2 separate regions of the Homo sapiens genome follow, and region 1 is linked to region 2. The links come from fine-mapping of genetic effects on gene expression. Tissue or cell type: whole blood. Region 2 holds a variant in brackets; the other region holds the start of a gene. All regions are shown on one strand. Distances are from middle to middle.

The links. PIP is the estimated chance that this variant, and not a neighbour inherited with it, causes the effect.
Region 1: it holds the start of HERPUD2, and the variant in region 2 is fine-mapped to the expression of HERPUD2 in whole blood (TOPMed, PIP above 0.99).

Annotation. Positions count from the first base shown.
Region 1 is chr7:35,693,959-35,696,715 of GRCh38, forward strand. HERPUD2 (HERPUD family member 2) reads right to left here and starts at 1,177. Exons shown (of 9, transcript NM_022373.5): 1 at 843-1,177; 2 at 226-669. The coding sequence starts at 372. It overlaps HERPUD2-AS1 (HERPUD2 antisense RNA 1), which reads left to right and starts at 1,248. Exons shown (of 1, transcript NR_136255.1): 1 at 1,248-2,757. RefSeq lists an enhancer at 316-1,203 and a silencer at 646-1,055.
Region 2 is chr7:35,716,589-35,719,345 of GRCh38, forward strand. It overlaps LINC03013 (long intergenic non-protein coding RNA 3013), which reads left to right. Exons shown (of 2, transcript NR_108083.1): 1 at 1-280; 2 at 2,482-2,757. Among named protein-coding and RNA genes, the nearest start is that of LINC03013, 1.5 kb to the left of the region's middle. The variant A/T (reference allele first, on the strand shown) is at 1,452.

The DNA of each region.
Region 1 (2,757 bases), 23 kb before region 2:
CTTGATATTTCTGCTTCCTCTTACTAATTAACTGAACCTCATCAGGAAAATATTAATGATGGTTCGAACACTCAGGAGACACAACCTCAGAACTCAAAATACCTCGCGGTCTACCAAAAGAGACCTATTTGATTCAAGACTGGAGGGGAGAAGCAGGAAAAAGGAGGGTACACGGCACGAAAAGCTGCTGGTCAGAGCAGCTGCCCCCAGCTTTTACACACTTACTGGTTTGCTAGGGTAAACGTTAGATAGATGCGTTTTTAGTTTCCCCACGGTCCAGTTCAAGAAGCAGCTAATAGTCTGGTCACTGTATTTCTGATTCGGTGCTTTAATGATGAGGGTCACAGGAATCTCCATCCCACTTTGGTCCATGGTGCCCCCAAAGTCAGACAGAGTCCAGAGGAGCGGCAGTTAAGCCCAAAAGAGCCGAGATGGTCACCGCCGGCGCGACTGGGATGAGGACAGAAGTGAGTTCTTAGTATTCCGTGTCCAAGTCAGTTACAAGTGCACTGGAGGATACGAAGCCCATTGCCGGTACCAAGGATGGACTGAGGTGGTGGCGACTGCGACGGTGGGGTCTGGGTGCCCGGCCGTGGAGGCAGCTCTCCCCGCCAGGTCCGGGCTCCGCCGGGCTCCGGACTGTGGAGGCCGTCGTGAGGAGAAAGGAAGCTATACGAAGGAAGGGTGGGAGGGATGAGGGCACAACGGCCGGCCCGGGGTCACTGCCCCGCCCCACCGCGACCCCCAAGCTGGAACGCAACAAGGCCCCTACGCCACGGCCCCGCGGTGCGGATCGGGGAAGCAGCTGGGCCGCTCAGGGCGGTCAGCGGGCACTGGGGTACCTGAGAGAAGGCCGCGGGGCCCGCCACCGCCGCCCTCCGCGCCCAGGCAGGGCCGCCAGCCACACCGTCCGGCCAGGCGTTTTCCGTGGCAGCCGCTCCCTTCCTGCTGCGCGGCGACCGGCACGGCCCAGCCCCGGGTCTCGCGAGGAGGCGCGGGTGAAAGGGAGAGAAGCTGACCGAAGGCGCGGCCCGGCTCTCCGCCTGACCCCTCAGTCTGGACAGCGCAGGGTGGCGGCAAGGCAGGGCTGGGCCGGGGGCGGCCCAGGCGACTACAGGTAGCAGGAGGGCGGGGACGAGAGCCGTTGCGCCACCGCTGGCGCGCCGGTTTTGTTGTTATTGCGAGGATTGTCTGGGGCCCCTTTAAGCCGGAACAGGCAGGGCGGAAGTGCGTCACCGGCGGCACGCCCCTGCACATGGACCTCCCCCGTCCCCGCCATCCCTGCCGATCCTGTTGCTGCCGCCTTCCCGCCGTGCTCGGGCTGCCCGGGACTCTAGCCGCCAGGCTTCGCGTCGCCCAGCGGCAGATCGGGCTCCTGGGAGCCTCTCCCCTGGCCGTTTGCTCGGCCTCGGCCCCAGCTGCCCTGGGGCCTAGCCACTAGCTCCCCTGGCGCTAGCCTACCCTGTCTTGACCGCACCCTGAAGATTTGGGAAGTCTTTCTCCATCCCAAGAGTCGTCTCTGCAAAAGTTGGTGTCCTTCCTGGTGCTGAACCACGCTTCTGCTCAAAATGTGTTGAGCGTCGTCTGTCTGCAAAGCACGGTGCCAGGAGCTTTGGTGGAGAAGGCATGGGGTACATGTGTAAAGAGTACAGGCTTTTGGTTAAACCTGAAGTCCTCCTCTACTTTCTGGGGGACCCTGGCCGTCCTTGCTGAGCCTCCGTTGACTTCTCTAATGGGGACGGTAATGCCTACCTGACCACAAGCTGATGAGTAAATGAGCTATGAGTGCAAAGTGTGGTGCAGTTCTGGCGTGTGCCAGCCTCTCAAGTGTCAGTTTCCGTCTCATTCCTCTTAATCTTCACTAAAATGGACAAGTATTCATTGAGCACCTAATGCGTGTTCAGTATGGTGGGAGATGAGGGATGACAGTATTATTTTTCTATTTTATAGGTTAGACATAGAACAAAAGGTTGAGTCTATTGCCCATAGCCGAACTTTTCTTCATTTTCTACTGTGGTTTAGAAGTCGGTATAGTAAGTTAAGGGTTGTTAGATGTGCATTTTCACAGCTCCCAGCTTCCACTTAGGAGTAGATAACATAGGGGACTTTGCGAGCTGGTCTCTTTCCCTCTTAGCTTCAGAAGGGCTTCGAGGTAGCCACCACTGAATTAGTTGAGAGACAAGGCACCCCTACGGAGGAAATCTCAACTGCACAACCCCTACTGTGCCCCAATTCAGCAGGAAGCAGTTAGAGCGGTGGTCAAACCTCCCCAATAGCACTTGGGTTTTCCTGTTGAGAGGGGGTACTGAGAGACAGGACTAGTTGGATTTCCTAGGCTGGCTAAGAATCCCTAAGCCTAGCTGGGAAATTGACCACGTCCACCTTTAAACACGGGGCTTGCAATTTAGCTCACACCCGACCAATCAGGTAGTAAAGAGAGCTCACTAAAATGCTAATTAGGGAAAAACAGGAGGTAAAGAAGTAGCCAATCATCTATCGCCTGAGAGCACAACAGGAGGGACAATGATCAGGATATAAACCCAGGCATTCAAGCCAGCGGTGGCTACCCTCTTTGGGTCCCCTCCCTTTGTATGGAAGCTCTGTTTTCACTCTATTAAATCTTGCAATTGCACACTTTTCTGGTACGTGTGTGTCACAGCTCAAGCTGAGCTTTCGCTCACCGTCCACCACTGCTGTCTGCCGCTGTCACAGACCCACAGCTGACTTCCATCCCTCTGGATCCAGCGAGGCGCCCAT
Region 2 (2,757 bases):
ATAAGACATGCCAGCAGAACTCTAAAGGCAGAATGTCCTTCCACCTGTTTTATGCTGTAAGACAAACTTCCAAGTGCGAGGCAGTGTGGAGGGCTGTTGCCTTGAATGGCAGCTGAATGCACCAGCGGGATCCTTGGCAGCAATGCCCAGGCACTGAAGTCGGGCATTCAGGAGAGCTAAATGGAGAAAAGAAACTTGAGCAAACTGCTTCCTGGAACACTGAGAACCTGAATGGGAAATTAAGAAGAACCAGATTCTTTCTATTCTTCCACCAGCCAAGGTCAGATTTCCAAACTTCTATTGATTCTAATCTTTCCCAAACAGTGCTGTGGCAATGTATGAAAGTAATAAAAATAATCCTTTTTCTGTTAAAAAAAAAATTGCTGTTACTTGCTGTTTTGTTATGCTTTTGCTGGAGATTTTCCCACCCATCTTAAAGCAGCAACTTCAGGATGGGGGAATCAAGCAAAACCATGGTGAAGAGATTCATTTAAAGAGGACAAGTGATTTATTCTACATCTCAGGAGACAGTTCCTTAAGGTGAGAGGTGTTGCCTATGCCAACTTGCTTATTGCCTCTTTTGATGTTATCTTAGCAATAAGCTGGGGCTAATCGTCCCCAGTTTGGGAGACTTTGAGGCAGGGCTAACTGCCACAGTAAAAGACCCATTAACAGTAAGGAGGGTAAATGGATAGCAAAAAACCTAGGAGAATCCACAGGCTTTTGTTAATTTTATTCTATCTGCCTGGTGTTTCTGGAACTCTAGTTTCAAAGTTAGAATACCCAGAATCCCAGCAGCTGAGGAAAGTAATAACCAGTGTCTGGGGGCGAGGGTGGGGAGGGAAGCGAGGGTATAAAGAGGATGAGAATTCTTCTAGTTATTTTCAGTTTTTACTGAAACTGAAGCTTTCCTGAAACTTTAAGTTTTTAGGAAACTTAAAGATAATTGTTTGTTTACTTAAAATACAGCCTCAAGGATACTTTTAGTTTAAAAAAATTTCTTGACTACTTGATTTCCTCTTGGGAAGATTATTATTTAACAAAAATATGTATTTATAAACAAAATATTTCAGAACAGGAGTCTGTGGAGAAATAGTCTTAAAAGGACTTTTCAGCAGTGATAAGATAAGAAACACTGCCCTAAAGAAAACTGTTGGCTGGGCGCGGTGGCTCATGCCTGTAATCCCAGCACTCTGTGAGGCCAAGGTGGGCGGATTACCTGAGGTCAGGAGTTCGAGACCAGCTTGGCCAACATGGTGAAACCCCGTCTCTACTAAACACACACACAAAAAAAATTAGCCAGGCATGATGGCGCATGACTGTAATCCCAACTACTTGGAAGGCTGAGGCAGGAGAATCGCTTGAACCCGGGAGGTAGAGGTTGCAGTGAGCCAATATCGCACCATTGCACTCCAGCCTGGGCAACAGGAGCAAAACTCCATCTCAAAAAT[A/T]AATAAATAAATTAATTAATTTAATTTAATTGTTTAAGGGGTGTCATTTTCCAAATTGTTTTTATGAAAAATTTACAAACAGTGGCTAGTGTCCCATTGTACTGTGTATCTAATTCAGTAAAAGTACTGAAGATTCAAAAAGATTGTTAGAGTGGTTGTGGAAAATTCCAGAGCTGCTGTCACCAGCAGAGCCTTCCTTTACTGAGTGTCTCAGTGCCAGTATAACAAATCCTAGACACTGGCTTTATTGGCCAGTGGTGCAAAGAAATAGTAAAAATTCAATAAAAATATTGCTTGAACCAGGAAGCCTCCTCATAGAGTTGTGGACTCTTCAGAGAGGTTTTACCAAAGTAAGGGCAGAATGTGTATACCGTCTTTCAGGGATTCAAGAAATGTAGGCAACAATGTCTATTATTAGCCCTCCTCTCCTTCCATGAGCAAAACCCAAATTACTTGTTTTTAATTGGCACAAAAGCACATTCAATCATTACATTATCAGACATTGTTCATGTACCTATCATATGCCAGGCTGTGTGCTAAGAGCTGGGGATCTGAAGATGAATAAAATGTACCCTGCCACAATCAGGATTGGCAACAACTGACCTAGGTGGCTCACCTGCATTGTCTGGATAACAAGCCAATTGGCACCTGAGGCCCCCAACCTTATCCCCACAGGAGGGGTTCGTCCAAACTGCTCATGAGACCAGTTTCTCCCTTCCACAGACCCCAGTGCCTTCAGGTGCTGAAAGTTGACTTTCCCAGGCAACTCAGAGAGCTGGTGTCTAACCCCACACTGATGTTACTCAATAAGTCTGATTACCCTCCCACCCACTAGGTTGTTCTCACTCTTGCCCTATAAGAAGGAGAGCAGCAAGGGGACAAGGAATGCCCACCGATGGTGTGTCCAATAGATAACTTTGGCCCATCTCTTATCTTTATTTGTTAATTCTTGCTTTGTAACTTTCCCCCAATAGAGCCCATGAGATTTCATGGAAATCATCACAAAATAACAAACCTTTTTGCGTGACAGGTGATGAGCACAAAAGGATCCATCTTATACAGTGCTTGCCAGCTTCCATAATACTACTCACCACGATGTTGAAATCACCTGTTCCAGAACCAGTCCTGTCCTTTGACAAGAAGGATTTAATTATCAGTAGTGGTGGGGACTGGCTGGAGAGAGGAAAAACACTTCAAGGACTCTGCCACCTTTCGTAGATGGAGAGTGCAAAGTTTGTACCATGGAACTCCTTCTCTAACAGTTACTCTGTGGCAGTGCCTATTTCAAACCTCCCTTAACTTCTGA